Linked DNA regions of Homo sapiens: region 1 is linked to region 2. The links come from fine-mapping of genetic effects on gene expression. A gene starts in region 2. The other region holds a variant in brackets. All regions are shown on one strand. Distances are from middle to middle.

Region 1 (8,336 bases), 220 kb after region 2:
ACAGGCTAAGAATTCCCAAGCCCATCCAGAACAAAAATCTAGCGTACTTGAGATTAAAAAGCTTGCTCTAAAATGAATTTTAATTTCTTTTATCTTCTACTCTTCCTTCTCATCCCTCCTACCTTCCCATCCCTTCTTTTCCTCTTTCTGTTTCCTCTCTTCTTTCTCCTTCTTATTTCCAGGAAAGGAAGGAATGTTGGGGGTCAGGAATCAGATAGTTGTGAAAGTTCTGCTCTGGTGCTGTTACTATGGTTTGAATGTATTGGAAACTTAATCCCCAAATTCATATATTGATTGGACATTGGGCCTTCTGGAGGAAATTAGGTTTAGATAAGATCATCAGGGTGGGGGGGGGGGCAAAATGGGATGGGTGGCTTTATAAGAAGAAAAAGAAAGACTCTAGCTGACCTGCACATTCTTGCTCTCACCACGTGATGCCCTCCACTGTGTTATGATGCAGTGAGAAGTCCCTCACTGGATGTCAGCCTTAAACTTCCCAGCCTCCAGAACCAGAAGAAATAATTCTTTATAAATCACCCAATCTAAGGTATTCTGTCATAGGAACGGACAACAGACTGAGATGGCTGTTATTTTAAGAAATAAAGCTGGCATATATTCCCCTCACTCAAAGTACTTCTAAAATGCAGATGTCCACCACCAAAGGGCATTGCATGTAGGTGCATATGCACAAACATAGACATCACCATTGCTAAATAGCAGGTACCATGGAGAACAGAGCAATGAACCATTTCCTCATATGGAAAGAAAATACCTAATAAAACCCAAGCAAAGAGTCCAAAATAGCTCCACTTTATTTTTGAGCACTCTTATGTAGAACCATTTAGCCAGGGCCAGGAATAATTGGTGCCAGGTGCCTTGTAGAGATGCCAGGTTCATGGATTTCTCACTCTCTTTATGGGAGGATGACTTAATAACACATCTTTGTCTGCTGAATGTTTGAATCTTATTTCTGAGATTATACCCAAAGATGGCAGCCCTCCTCTGCATGAGTAAATCACATTGAAAATAGGAAAAAGAGTCCAGGCAATCAATGCCTGTCTCAGCTGAAACATAATTATAAGTCCACTGTGCTTAGAGGTAATACTTTATTAAAAAGAATATCAGGACTGGGTGCAGTGACTCATGCCTGTAATCCCAACACTTTGGGAAGCCGATGCGGGCAGATCACAAGGTCAGGAGTTCGAGACCAGCCTGGCCAATGTAGTGAAACCCTGTCTCTACTAAAAATACAAAAAATTAGCTGGGCGTGGTGGTGGGTGCCTGTAATTCCAGCTACTTGGGAGGCTGAGGCAGGAGAATCGCTTGAACCTGGGAAGCAGAGGTGGCAGTGAGCCAAGATTGTGCCATTGCACTCCAGCCTGGCAACAGTGCGAGACTCCATCTCAAAAAAAAAAAAAAAAAACAAAAAAAAAAACTCTCTCTCTTTATATATATATGTATATATACATATATATATATACATATATATATGTATATATATATGTATATATATATATATATATATGTATATATATCAGAGCTACATTTTTGGTTTGGTGGCTAAGTCATAATTGTAGAAATCTATTTTCCAATAAATCCTTCCCTTGAACCTAAATATATAAAAGAGATAATGTGTGGAGCTGCTCTGGTTATATTGGGGGTTGGGGGTCCAAGGCATTGCCCATTTAGCTTCTTCCTTGGCTCCCACTTAAGCCACTACTCACCCTCCCCATAAGCTCCCCATGGAGCTCCTCTAACAGAGCGTGAAGAGTACTGACTGTTATGCTGGTTATTAGTGAATACATAGTACCCATTACTACACAGGGGGAAACTGAGGCCTGGAAAATGAAGTGTGATGCCAAAGTGTTGGAGCTGGTGCTGCTGCTGGGACCTGCCACCTCCTGTAGAGCACTAAGTGTCAGCGAGCACTAAGTATCATACTCTGTGACCCTTAGCAAGGCAGCCCCTCTTGGGACAGCACATGCACCCTGCTCCCCAACAGGAAGCGAACATTTAAACTAGTTTGACCTTGAATGTAAAGTCATGGAGTGAAATAGTCTACTTAGCAGAGCCCTTCAGGGTGTTCTCCTTTTCCTGTCAATTTGGTATTTTAGTTTTGGAAAACAAAAATATTCTGTAAGAGGAGCTCTGATTTGGTTCACAAGCCTGTGCTAGTAATAGGAGAACTTGGATAGCCAGGCATCCTACTGTCTTGCTCCTCCACACCCCTGCTTCCTCACCTTTGCCAGGTGCCACCTGGCCTGGTGGAATGGTGGGCAAGTACTGCAAGAACATGCTCTAAGCCACGGGGTGGTGCAGCCTGCCCGCCCAGGCCCCTTGGCAGGAAGCTGGCAAACAGGCATCTCATCTCAGAGACAGGACAGTGAAGTGGACAGACTCCTCTGTGTGTGTGTGTGTGTGTGTGTGTGTGTGTGTGTGTGTGTGTGTGTGCGCGCGCGCGCGCGCGCGCACTTAAATAGCATGATTTTCCTCTCTAATTAAAAAAATGAAATTTACAAGGAAAATTTATACCATATAATAAGGATAAAGAGAACGTCACTATATAGAGAAGCATTTTTTTTTTTTTGAAACGGAGTCTCGCTTTGTCGCCCAGGCTGGAGTGCAGTGGTGTGATCTCGGCTCACTGCAACCTCCGCCTCCCAGGTTCATGCCGTTCTCCTGCCTCAGCCTCCTGAGTAGCTGGGACTACAGGTGCCTGCCACCATGCCTGGCTAATTTTTTGTATTTTTAGTAGAGATGGGGTTTCACCATGTTAGCCAGGATGGTCTCGATCCCCTGACCTTGTGATCTGCCCGCCTCAGCCTCCCAAAGTGTTGGGATTACAGGCAAGAAGCATTTTAAAATACATATCCTTAGATTCTTTCTTTCCTTCCCTCCCTCCTGTCTTTATTTTCTCTCTTCCTACTTTTTTTTCACTATTTCATTTTGCCAAAATGAGATCATACTGCTTGTGATCCCCTTTTATTTACTTCATGTATTGTGAACACATTTTTTGTGATAAATACATAATAATGTGTACTTATTATTGGTTTAGAAGTATTCCTTTGTGCTGTAACTCATTCAAGTACATTTCTACTTTTTAACCTTTGTTTTTTCTGCCTTTATAAATAACATTTTTGTTACTAGTTTGAGTCCTAAATCATTGCATGTTTCTCTAGCAGGAATTCCTAGAGGTGGAATTGGTGGATATATAAGAAGAACTGTAGCGATTGTGAATAACCAGAACTATGGAACTGACTCTTCTGTCCTTAAACATTTGCTAATTACCGCACCCGACCAGCCCAATCCAGGCAGGCGGTTGATGGCAGCTCTTGGCAATCGATGCCCTCTCCATTTATCAAAGAGATAAATGGAATCATCAAATAGGAAATTCATTATTTTAAAGAGTTCATCTAAAATGGGGTCAGAGAGAGAATGTGACAAAGTCGAAAAAGCAGGCCCCTCAGAGGAGAAGGGGAAGGGGCAGGGGTGAAATGGAAATTCTCCAATTCCTCAGGCTTCCCTTTGTCCTTCCCTTGAAATCTTGTGCATCCGCCCTGACTCCAGGCCTCCTCAGCAGATGGTGCCAGGCAGCACCTTCCATTCCCTGCCCAGGGAGGTGACAAAGTTCCGGCTAGCGTGACCACAGGATGGATCTCCATTACTTCTTAGCTGATCCATGTTAAACTCAAGATGACTGTGGTCAGACTTAGTTTTCCACCGAGATTTAATTAACAAATTTTCTGGGCTGTGTTCCCTGGGGCATATTTAGAGTCATGCTCAATGTCTAACTTTCTGGGGAGTTTTCAGCTCGATGAACTTCTTTCTACTTGGACATAGCACATAGCCACAGAAATGTGTGGGGAGACTAGTGCATGAGAAGAAGCCAGCATATAACTCTGTGAATAGAAGCTCTTTCTATGTACAGGTATTTGGGGAGCAAAGGCCTCCTTTCTGCTCCTCGAGGCGGGGGGTGTGACTGGTTTCGAGAGGTGGGCTCTGTCGGTGTTGGTAGACAGGCCACCTTAACCTCCCTCAAAGGGGCAGTGGAGCAGGCTAATGAGTATCCTCTGCGAGCTTGAGAGGTGCACATGCATTCACTTAAAGCAAGGTGGGCCCCTGCCAATTTGTCCAGATTCACTGCCAGTTGGCAGTAAGATTGAATCCTGAGGAGAGACAGAGAGAGTGGAAGGCCTGGCCTGGGGTTCTGGCCTGACCAGCGAGCAGTAGCTTTCATGTATGGGGAGGCCACGTTTCAGCATAGATGGGCCGAGATGGGCCCAGTCTCTAGCAATTACCTTCATGGTTTTCTGCCAGAGGCTATTTTTTTCCAAGGGAAAACTTCCCATTTGTTTTTTGTATTTTTAAAGTGTGTGTGTGCGTGTTTGCTCTTTGTGCTAAGGGTACATGTTCAGCAGAAGGAATTGGCAGGAGCACACGCTCCCTCTCTCTCTCACTTTGCATGCTTGACCCTGAGACCTTGTGTTCTCCTGAAGCCTCTGCCACGCAATCTCTTCCATCTTCTTCCTGTCTGATGATTTCCCCTGGACTCTCCCATGGGCATTTTTATGTCAATAGATTGGAA[T/A]GTTTCTCTCCTCACTGGGAAAAGCTCCTTTGGTCTCAGTGAACTCAGAGGTGGAGAAAGTCATAAGAATCAGGGAGCCTGCCCCAAATTGCCTCCTATGATAACTTTCCACAAAGACTGGAGGGGAGGCTTCAAACATCTTCCTGCAGTGTCCAGCAAGACAGCGAGGCAGACTCCCTTTCTCCTGCCAAAGCCACGTGGAGCCAGACAGAACCACAAGCATACCTGTGGTGCTTGGAGGCCCAAGTAGAAACTTGAATGCTCACGGCTGCATTGGCAGCTTCTACTTGCCTGCCTGGATCACCGTTCCTCATGAGAACTTGGAAAAGCAGGACTATCATTCTTGCTTGACAGACGAAGAAACCAAGCCTCAGGTAGGTAGTTAGTTTCCCAAAGTAACATATTGTAGTGGATGGCAGGGTGGATGTGACAGTCAGCTTTGTTTGACTTTCAACTGAGTGGCATTATAAGGTTGCACTGGTCACATGGGAGACCTGACCATCCTGGGGACCCTGAAACACCTAGGCCTAGCCAATCATTAAGGCAGTTCATACCCAAAGCAGGATAGTTGGTGATCTGATTTTAGGTGGCACCAGGAAACTCCAACACTACCCTTGTGAGGTTCCATAATTTAGTGTCATTCTTTGGTTAATGGATTGTCTGCAATTACAATGAAAATATCTTTGTGTCTATAATCATTTAAGCAGTCATTTCCATCTAAGTGTGAATTAATTTATTGTCTTATTCAATGTAACAGCTAGCTGAGGCTTGATTTTATTTTCCTTCATGCATTTATTCTTTCAATTGGTATGCATTTAATGACCATCTGAGGACAAGATACTATGTGAGTTCAAGGAGGAGTAAGACATGCACTCTGCCCTAAATGAACTTACAGGTTAAAAGGGAACTGAAGTCACCATAAAGCAGCATACAGTAAGTGACATAAGAACAGCACAAATAGAAAAAAATCAATTGAGGGCAGGAACTGAGGTGTTTAGGGAGCACCCACTGGGGGAACCAACATGTGGGATGAGTCTTTGTGAAGGATGGTCATGATTTCAACTAGAACCTGTAGTGTTACAGAAGGCAGGCAGAGAAGGGAGAGGAAGGCATTGCCGGAGGGAAGGCAAGGAGCAAAGACATGGGGTAAGAAACTGACATGTTTGTTTGGGGCATTCACATGGTTCCCTTTAACTTAAGTATAGGGTATGTGGAGGGGAGTAACAAGAGATAAAGATAAAAGGTGTTTTGAGGCCTATATTTAGAAGACTGTCAGTGCCAGGCTAAGGAGGATGGTGTCTTACCTGGTCGGCAGTGGGAGCCTTTGAAAGTGTGTGAACAGTAAAGCGCCAGGACTCCAACTGTGTGCTAGGAATCATGGGTCAGAGGTTCCTGGAGAATGTTTATTTCAAGCTGAAATAATCAAGGCCTGAGCTTAAATAATAGTGGTGAGAACTGCCAGGAGGGAATGGTGCAGAAGATAGCCCGATATTGTGATATAATACAAAAATATATCCTTGTCTTCAGCCCTGGCTCTAGTTCCTTACATGGAGCTCTTAAAACCTTTGGAATTCCCTGAACGATGGGATGAGAGGAGTGTGTTATTTTATTCGTAAGCCCCTTTCAACCACACATGAGTGGATGCTAGTGAGATGGCTGGGGGTTGGGGGACTCTAGATAGCTTCTGGCTGGGGGCTGGTTCCCAGGAAGACCAAGACAGGATAAAAGAGTTGGAACTTTCAACCTCACTTCCACCCCTCAACCTCTGAAGAAAGAAGAGGAGATACAGACTGAGTCAATTGCCAATGGCCAATGATTTAATCAGTTATGCCTATGTAATGAAACCTCCATAAAATCCCCAAACAATGGGATTTGAAGGGCTTCTTGGTCAGCAAACACATCAACGTGTGAAGAGGGCACAGAAGCTCCATGTCCTCACCCCCATCGCCGGCCCTATGCATCTCTTCCATTTGGTTTTTCCTGAGTTGTAGCTTTTATAATACATAAGCAATGGGAAGTAAACTGGTTTTCTGAGTTCTGTGAGCTGTTCTAGCAAACCATTGAAACTGAGGAAGGGGTTGTGGGAACCTCTGACTTTATGACTGTTTTATCAGAAGTATGGGTGGCTGGGACTTGTGATTGGTGTCTGAAGTGGGACAGTCTTGTGGGACTGAGGCCGTAACCTGTGGGGTCTGAATTAACTCTGGGTACCTAGTGTCAGAATGGAATTTAATCATTGGATACCCAGTTGGTGTCTGGAAAGCTGGAGAACTGGTTGTGGGTGTGGAAAAAAACTTACATATTTTGGTGTCAGGGTGTTGTGAGTAGAAACAGATCATGTCAACAGATGGGCTCTTTTTTTAAAAAAAATTTTTTTACATTTCTTTTTTTCCTTCTACATTTTTTCTCTTTAAGCTTTATTTTTGATACACAATAATTGTATATATTTATGGGGTACAGTGTGATGTTTTGTTACATGTATGCAATGTGCAATGATCAAATCAGCACAATTGGGATATCCATCACTTCAAATATTTATTATTTCTTTTGGTGAGAACATTCCAAATCTTCTTTTCTAGCTATGTAAAAATATACAGTAAATTACTGTGAACTATAGTCACCTTATTATGCTACTGAACACTAGATTATATTCCTTCTATAATATCTAAGTGTGTTTTCGTTCCCACTCCCCCTCCTCACTACCCTCTGAGCCTCTAATAACTATCATTCTATTTGCTATCTCCATGTGATTCATTTATTTAGACTCCATATATAAGTGAGAACATGTGACATTTGTCTTTCTGTGCTTGGCTTATTTTACTTAACACAATGTCCTCCAGTTCCATCCATGTTGTTGTGGATGGCAGGATTTTGTCCTTTTTTACAGCTAAATAGTATTCCATTGTGTATATATATGAGATTTTCTTTATGCATTCATCCTTTGATGGATACTTCAGTTGATTCCATATCTTGGCTATTGTGAAGAGTGCTGTGGTAAACGTGGGAGTGCAGATATTTCTTCAAAATATTTGACTTCCTTTCCTTTGGCTACATACACAGTAGTGGATTGCTGGATCATATAGTAGTTTATATTCTTAATTTTTTGAGGGAACACTATACTATTTTCTGTAATGACTGTATTAATTTACATTTCCACCAACAGTGTATAAGAATTCTCCTTTCCCCACGTCCTCACCATCATTGGTCTTTTTTTTTGTCTTTTTGATAATAGTCATTTTAACTGGAGTGAGATGATAGCAGATGGGCTCTTGTTTAAGAGTAGTTGTGGTATATAAGGGAGAGGGAGATGTTAAAGATGGCCAAGTGTCAAGTCTTGGTAAGTTGAAGGTGTGGAAGATTAAGAGGAAGCCCAGGAGAAAGAACTGCTGAGGGTGGGAATAGGAGGTGTGCCAATTTAGACATGTTGACTGGAGGTAGCCGCTGGCCTGCAGGCACAGCAGGGCCTCATATGTGGGGAGAGCGTTCAGTGAGCATGAGAGGGCGCTGACGGAAGAATCAAGGAGAGACCCATGGTCACAGGGAGGCAAAGGGATTCCAAATCTGTCTCATTCAAAAACATTTTCCTGTGTGAGGCCACTATTCTAAATCCTGAGATTCATACGAGCAAGGACAAGTCACTCTTCTCATGGAGCTTTCCTTCTTATACAGCAATTGGTAGGACCCAAGTCTTCTGCAGAGCCCTAAAGTGTAGCTTTCCTTCACTAGTTGTCATTCTCAATGTGGAAACATT
Region 2 (8,336 bases):
ATATCTGCTTATGAGTAAGTTCAGCCTTGTGCCTGAATAAATACTTTTTTAAAAGGTACCAATAATTCCAACACACCAAAAGGTACCTGCCCTTGGAAAAGGATAAAAGCAAGAATGCCTCTGGGTGAAGTTCCTGGTCATTCCCAACTCTGAATTTAGCATTGATCCTGTGTCTAGCTGGGCTCCTCTTCTGACCTGAGAGCCCTGAAGTCAGCAGATGAGGTGCTGGTAGAGTTCCATGTAGACAAAGCCCCAGCTCTCTTTCCCCTTATAATCCTGTCTTCAGGGGAGTGACTTGCAACTTATGGAACATATCACATGTGTTTTTTATTGTCCCCAAACACCATGTGATCTATCATGTATCTTGCTAAAGTAAATTTCTAAGCTTTTTTTTTCCTTTTTAAAACTATTTTCGAAACTGTGGCAAATGTGTCTAGACTTAGTCATACAAAATTTACAAAAACCTTTTAAAAGGGATTTTAAGATGGTGTTTTAAGGTTGTTAGGTGTTCCATGTTAGGTGTCTTCTCAGTAAGCCACTCTTCTTTTTCAACTTAAGGAACCCCTCCTTGACAAATTATTAATCAGTGCCTTGGATATATTCACTAATGGTAGAACACAGAGGTTTAAAATCATTATGGGTTATAAAGAAAGTAAAAATATTTTTATTTGTGGCCAATTTAAAGCCTTGAATCTGTTTGGCTGGGGCTAATATTTACACTTCCATCCCTGGTGCACATGTTAAGTAATCAAAAGAAAATAGAACTCGGGATTATGCCTGTCGGCAAAAAAAAAAAAAAAAAAAAAGGGATTTAAAATGTGCCACTGGAAATTGATAATCTGAATAATTTTCATTATTTGATTATTGGCTTAACAGAACAATGAGTCTCACCTAACAAGATACAACTCAATGCTAGACAGTTACATAAGGAGGAAACTAGGATAGATCAAGTTAGATGATTTTGGGATACATGAGCTATAATGGTGTTTTACCCAACCTTTATCTAGCAACATCATAATGATTTGCACCTTGAAGTTTTACTGGTAAATAAAACTTCTGAATGTGAAATCTGTTGTTGTTGTTGTATTACTTACCAAAATCATTTTTACAAAGCGTTTCCATTATGTCGTTGTCATCATCATTTTTATTTTTGCAGGCTTCACATACCTTTGGAGCTAGAAATGTGAAAAACAGTCTTTAGTAAGTTTGCTTAAAAGAGAACAGTAGGTGGCGTTTGTAAACAACTCAAAGGGACTTATCCAGACAAAAGTAGCAATTGTCCTATTTAACCTCAGCTTCTGCCTCCTCTATAAAAGCAGGAACACTCAATCCTAAGAAAGTTTTCCCATGCTTCCCAATTTTTTTGGGGGGGAGGGGTGGTGGGAGCAAAATGAGAATGCCTATATGTTGTTGTGTTTAATAAATTATGACTCTCAAAAGGGAGTTGTGGGCAGAGTATACAAGTGTATGTAGTTATAGTTAACTGAGACAGGGTGCAGCTTTTCAGCTCATCCTCCCAACCTCTGGGAAATTCAGTCTGAAAAAGTTATTCCCAAGGCCTTTTGAAGGAGAAAGCACCCAAAGAACCAAAGATACTTGAGGAATTTGGGAAAACTGGTAACTAGAAAATATAGACAAAAGATTGTCTTTCTCAGCCACAGGACACCAGTGTAGTTGGCTCTACTCGGCAGAGCTCTGTATCTCAGGGGGGCCAAGTCTGGACTGGGAGGGGTGACTGGCTAGCGTTCCACATGTGGGCTGTTTCCACCTTGAAAACACATCTCACTAATTACAACAGCCTGCTCTAAGTGGTTCTGTGTCACCTTGTGCCTCTGCCAAGATTGTGCTTGAGTTAGGCAGCATTCATTTCATTGTTATCTGCAAGCTCCCTGGTACAGGTTCTTCTTGCCCTTCTGTGCCTGTTTCAAACTCTCAAAACAAACAAATAAATAAACCTGTTTCTGAAGCTAATCAAAGACGAAGCAAAAATGGTTTAGTGGTCTGATCAAACTTAGGGATTGTATACTAGCACAATTATCAGAAGACCTGCTAAAAGCTCTTCTAAGAGTTTGATTTCTTGGGAGAAGTAAAAAAAAAAAAAAAAGAACAATTATATTGCCCTTCTCTCATTTATAAATGTGTTAATTATGTCTTTAAAATTTAGGTGAAATGAGATTTTCACTAATGTGAAATTTAATGTTCATAGAAAACTATGTGACTTAATAGAAGCGTTATTTATCAAATTAGAAAAATCACAAAGCTGGAATTTTGAAGAACATAAACTTTTATTTTGAAGGAGAAAAGTGGCTTTTTGGAGAAATGTAAGATGCGTAATGTTGCTGCTGATAGTGGGAAGAAATAAAAGCAACATACATAAAACTGCCCTTAAGTCCCCTCACCCAAACAAAATCAAACATTTCCAATTAGGAGCTCTCAGGATGTATATAAAATATTACTAACCTGTATTGGTTGGTCTATGGTACATGTTGGACAAATGTTTGAAAAATGCCAAACATTTGCAATAAATTAGAAATCTAACCAATAAGATGATTGCAAACTCATGGTCCCTGCCAGGAAAGATTGCTAAAGAACTTTGCATTTGCTTTAACTAATGATGTCTGTAGGAAAACTACTAGAGATTGAAAGGGAGAGGCTGCTGAAGCCCTGAAAGGGATTAGGAAGCTCCCTTTTCCAACCCAGGGGACCCAAATCAGCTCAGAGGCATTGTATATGTTTTCCTTTCAGAAAAAATATTGAGAGCCCATGAGGTTTTCATTGCTTTGATGGTTTTTGCACAGGAACTCTCCCTCCGTTTTCTAAAAACTTGGGAATCTCTTTTGCATGATTTTCTCCAGCTAATCAAAACCACTCCTAAGTTAAAAACTGATAGCAATAGAAAAGTGATTTCCAGAGATTCCCTTTATGCCCTCTTCCTCAAGTATCTGAGCAGTTACAACCAATGTTCAATTTTCCACACACTCCGTGCCAGTCCCGGTTTTATTTCCAAAATCTAAATTGACAAAGGACAAAAAGACCCTTAAAAGGTTATCTACTTGTGCATCCTGGTTTTCCTTTCTGTACAGGAAATGTTCCTGTGACTAGAATCCTGCCCAGTGGTAGGAAGGTGCAGAATGAGGCTGAGCGAGGGGCCTCTGGCCAGAATGCTCACCACAAACTCCTCCACCAAACACCACTTCCAACGCTCTGCGCAGCTCCAGTGCTAGCATCTTTAACAATAATCGTGTATCTATTTTTTTTTAAACCGCCGTTCAGTTCTTCGTTTTTTTAGTTTTGTTGTTTTTGTTTGTTTGTTTTATTTTTAAACTGCCCTTAAGTATAGCTGGTACAACTCGGGAGGAGAATGCGCGAGACTTGGGCGGCGTGGGAGGGGTGCCTCAAATTTGATACAGGCTTGTTGTGATGACAGACCAGGTCAGGCAGAACTTCTGCCCTTCCCGCTACTGGCACCCCAAGCAGGGATGCACTGGGATGCGTGGCAGGGGCGGGATCTCCTGGGAGCGTCTCAGCCCAGCAGGGAGTGGGGAAGCAAGAGGGAAGGCTTACCTTCCTCGGTGGCTGGCAGGAGGTGGTCGCTGCTAGCGAGGGGGATGCAAAGGTCGTTGTCCTGGGGGAAACGGTCGCACTCAAGCATGTCGGGCCAGGGGAAGCCGAAGGCGGACATGACCGGGGCGCAGCGGTCCTTCACCTGCACGCAGAGCGAGTGGCATGGCTGGATGGTCTCGTCTAGGTCATCGAGGCAGACGGGGGCGAAGAGCGAGCACAGGAACTTCTTGGTGTCCGGGTGGCACTGCTTCATGACCAGCGGGATCCAAGCGCCGGCCTGCTCCAGCACCTCCTTCATGGTCTCGTGGCCCAGCAGGTTGGGCAGCCGCATGTTCTGGTATTCGATGCCGTGGCACAGCTGCAGGTTGGCAGGGATGGGCTTGCAATTGCTGCGCTTGTAGGAGAAGTCGGGCTGGCCAAAGAGGAAGAGCCCGCGCGCCGAGCCCAGGCAGCAGTGCGAGGCGAGGAAGAGCAGCAGCAGCGAGCCAGGGCCCTGCAGCATCGTGGGCGCGCGACCCCGAGGGGGCAGAGGGAGCGGAGCCGGGGAAGGGCGAGGCGGCCGGAGTTCGAGCTTGTCCCGGGCCCGCTCTCTTCGCTGGGTGCGACTCGGGGCCCCGAAAAGCTGGCAGCCGGCGGCTGGGGCGCGGAGAAGCGGGACACCGGGAGGACAGCGCGGGCGAGGCGCTGCAAGCCCGCGCGCAGCTCCGGGGGGCTCCGACCCGGGGGAGCAGAATGAGCCGTTGCTGGGGCACAGCCAGAGTTTTCTTGGCCTTTTTTATGCAAATCTGGAGGGTGGGGGGAGCAAGGGAGGAGCCAATGAAGGGTAATCCGAGGAGGGCTGGTCACTACTTTCTGGGTCTGGTTTTGCGTTGAGAATGCCCCTCACGCGCTTGCTGGAAGGGAATTCTGGCTGCGCCCCCTCCCCTAGATGCCGCCGCTCGCCCGCCCTAGGATTTCTTTAAACAACAAACAGAGAAGCCTGGCCGCTGCGCCCCCACAGTGAGCGAGCAGGGCGCGGGCTGCGGGAGTGGGGGGCACGCAGGGCACCCCGCGAGCGGCCTCGCGACCAGGTACTGGCGGGAACGCGCCTAGCCCCGCGTGCCGCCGGGGCCCGGGCTTGTTTTGCCCCAGTCCGAAGTTTCTGCTGGGTTGCCAGGCATGAGTGGGAGAGGGTGTGTGTGTGTGTGTGTGTGTGTGTGTGTGTGTGTGTGTGTGTGTTGGGGGGCTGCGTCCCTGGTAGCCGCGTGTGCCCTGTGATGGAGCCCGGGACCTGCCCGCCCGAGGCCGCCTCGGCGAACTTCGTTTTCCCTCGAATCTCCAGCCACCGTTCAGCAGCCTGTCGGTGTGCTCCCCAATGCCGTAAAAAAATCAGAATTATAAATATATTCGTATGAGCAGAACTTTACATGGAAAACGAAATACTAATAAAATGGGCTTGTTATTCTGTTGGAGTGAGTGCCTAGGAAGGGTTTCGTCGTTGTAGAAACGCCCCTACAAGAGTCTCACCAGTCACACAGGACTGCCCACCATTTCCCCGTTTTGGAGAGATTTTTCCTTCTTAAATGAATGGCATGACTCAATACTCGAAGGCATCACGGGCTCTAACACACAGCCGCCCTTGCAGCTGTGCGCTCTGGAAAGCTGGAGTATGGGCCCCCAGGGCACTGTTTGTAAAGACTGGTGGCCGGCACAAAAGACGGGCACAAAAGATGGGCAGGCTGGGAGGGAGCGAGGTAGAGGAAGGAGTCCTGCCTAGAGATCCACGAGGGCTAGAATTAGCTCATTCATCCCCTACGTACCAGGGGGCACCATGCTGGGCGCTGGATGTGCAGAAATGAACAAACAGGCCGGCCTCTGCTCTCGTGGAGCCTGGGATCTAGTGTCTCTGACTGCAAACAGTAAGTTCTGGGTTGGGGGGTGGGCTCCTTTTGCCTAATTGTCCCTAGTCTCCCTATGGGGACAGGAGGCCTTCGCTCTCCTCAGCCGCTGTCTCCGGGTGGCTGTGAAGATCCAAAGAGATAATCCCCGGAGGGCGAAGTTCTTTCATATGTAAGGTGGGCGCATTGTTATTACTTCCCGACCACTTAAGAGTCATTCACAGGCTCAGACCCCGGCTTCCTAATTTCCCTCCTTCCGGAAGATGCGTTGGCCTTGGCGGCTCCCAGGCCCAAGTTATCAGGCACACTTTGCGGTCCAGCTGCTTAGAGGAGCCGGGTAATGAATGAATGGGTGGCAAAAGCCCACTCAGTGTTATCTGCTGACCGTAAACACGCCAGGAAAATCGTCATCTGGAGAGAATGCACATTCTGAACTCCAAGAATCTGCGTCCCTAAGAGCCCAGCTTCCGGGTGCTCTGCTGGGGAAGGGCCCGGGGTAGCTGCAAAAGGCCTCTCTTTCCCCAAATTGGTTCAGGGCCTTTTCGTCTCTAACGAAAGCACCAAGAGGCCTAAAAGCCCCCTTCCCAACATAAACTACTTTGCAATGAAACCACAAAGGAAACAGAAGCACACCAAAAGAAAGAGCTAATAAAGAGCGTGAGCTCTGAGAGATGCTACGACTTGGGCCTGGGAGTGGGATAAGGGCCCTCTCGCTTTCACGCCCCCCCAACCCCCCGCCGGCCCCGGCCAACCCCTAAATCCCCAACGCCCTCCGCTGGGGTCGCCTCCTCCCCGCAGAGCCCCTTGTTGGGAGTTCAAGGAGCCCGAAGCTGGTCTGGCTGGTTTGAGCCCCGCGCTGCCGCACGCCCGGAAGTGGCTGGCGGCCCCCGCGCTCCGCGCGCCGGCTGCATTGTTTTGGGAGCCCTCGCTGCCCGGCTTGCCGCCAGGAGGTGCTGGGAGTCGCGCCTGAGTCTCCATCCCTGCCGTGCGCAGTGTCCACCTCTGGCCAGCTTGTTTGCCCGGCCCGCGGCGTCCCCTGCGGCCCATCGCTGCTCCTCCCGGAACCCACGCCACTTAGTCTGGTCCCGACCCTGCACTCGCTGCTGCTGCCTTTCCCACCTCAAGTCGCTCTCCCCACTCCCTTCTGCTTTTGGGCTAAGACCGGTCCAATTGATCACTGGGGAACAGGGCAATAACCTCCCGCGGAGGCTGGGACGCGGGCACGGAGCTCTGCCCATATGAGCAGCGCAGGGATGGGACACTGGGTGCCCATCCCAGCGCGCCTCCCCAGACTGGTCCCTGGGATGCTCACACGTGGCGCGGCACCGCGGCGGCGCCTTCACGAACCCAGACTCTTCTCTGCTGCCAGTTGACCTCAGGTCCACAGGTCTCCTTCGATCCTTGCAATTGATCAAAACCCACCAAAGGCTTTTATTTGTACCAATGGACCGTCCATGTTTACCCCCTCCCTGCCCATTTAAGGCACGGAAAATCTATTCACCCAAGCCCAGGGTAAGTGATGGTGGATGCCCACTCCACCGGGCATCTTGCTTAAAGGGGGCTGCCCATAGGTCCCTGGAGAGGGGCTTGGTCCAGAACACACACAGAATGAACATCATCCCACCCCAATGCTGCAGGTCTACGGAAGAGCCTCGACCTCCCGTATCCTGGGTTTGGCTCTGCTTCTCTGCTTGAGTGTTTCCTGTGCTCAGGGCACTGAAGAAGCTTGAGGCACAAAGAAAGCCCCCAGCAATCTCTCCAGAACAATTTGGCTTCTTGTTTAAACCTGTGCTGGCTACAAGAGTTTCTGGACAGGCAAGACCTTCACTCTCACGTTCAGATTCTGTCCTGTCAGGGAGTCCGCTTGGCCTCCGCGAAGAGCTGGGAAAAGCGAGCCTCCCACCCCCACTCTCAAGTAGTAAAATCAAAGCGGATGGACCCTTATTTCTGAGGAGTGAAAGCGAGAAGAACGATGCGTGTAAAATGCTAGTTCCTTAATTCACACAATCCAGCACCGGCTCCCGGATGATCATTTTGCACACAAGCAGTCACTGGGAAACTGAGGCATGGAGAGGTTAAGTAACGAACCGGGCCACACCGTAAGTGGTACAGCTGCTGACGTTACATGTGCCTCGGTGAGGTGAAGTGACTACCGGGCTAGCCTTGGGGACCTGTCGCGACTTGTCGGGTGTCTCCAACCGCGTTGCCGCCTGGCTTTCAGCCGTGCGCTGGCCAGCCGGGCGGGTGACGTCACCTCTCCCCGGGTCCGTGCACCCAGGCCTTCCCTGCTCCGGGTGAGTATTTTTTCATGGGATTCAGCCATCTGGGGGCGCCATTTCCCAAAACAGAGATTGTCCCTTTGAGGTTGCAAGTCAGGTTCCTTTACGCTGAGATCCCTTACATTTTTACTTTTAGGAAGGTTTTTTCGAGGGGTGGGGGGATGACCTCATTCCTTCGCCTTTGGCCCTCCCTCTACCCGGCCCCACAACGAGGACGCCCCTGCAGCTGGCTGGGCCGCTTCCTCTTGCCACGCGGGGGGACCTGTGCCCGCGGCCGTGCACCTCCGTGTACGCTTCTGCTCCTCGGACCCCATCGGTTCAGACGCGGATTTCCGAGAACGAGACCAGAGTCTGCGTCTGGAGAGCCTTTGCCCCTCATCTTAGGAAGAGTCTAGTCTGAGAACAAACAGTTTGCCAACTCCTACCCCGAGCTCTTGCGCGTATCTCCTTAAATATTTCAAGGGTCTGGGCCCCAGATGGGTGCTCGGAAAGCAAACGAAGGGTCCAGGGAGGCCGAGGCCAACGCGGAGCTCAGCGCCCCCTTCTTGCCTGAAGGGGCGCGCTGGAGGAGGAAGGGCGCGGCGGAGACGCAGAAGGCGGTTCCTTGGGGGCAAAG

Direction of the effects. Positions count from the first base shown, and alleles are read on the strand shown. Sizes are in standard deviations (SD) of each study's normalised expression.
For the expression in esophagus muscle of the gene that starts at base 4,314 in region 2, A is the low allele of the variant in region 1 and T is the other (moderate effect, 0.53 SD a copy in GTEx).

The links. PIP is the estimated chance that this variant, and not a neighbour inherited with it, causes the effect.
Region 1: its variant is fine-mapped to the expression of SFRP2 in esophagus muscle (GTEx, PIP 0.98).

Annotation. Positions count from the first base shown.
Region 1 is chr4:154,000,503-154,008,838 of GRCh38, forward strand. The region is part of intron 8 of LOC101927947 (a long non-coding RNA gene); the gene reads left to right. Among named protein-coding and RNA genes, the nearest start is that of SFRP2, 220 kb to the left of the region's middle. The variant T/A (reference allele first, on the strand shown) is at 4,586.
Region 2 is chr4:153,784,770-153,793,105 of GRCh38, forward strand. SFRP2 (secreted frizzled related protein 2) reads right to left here and starts at 4,314. Exons shown (of 3, transcript NM_003013.3): 1 at 3,565-4,314; 2 at 1,095-1,175. The coding sequence starts at 4,066. RefSeq lists enhancers at 4,458-4,627, 4,542-5,243, 5,244-5,945, 6,207-6,376, 7,350-8,051 and 2 more.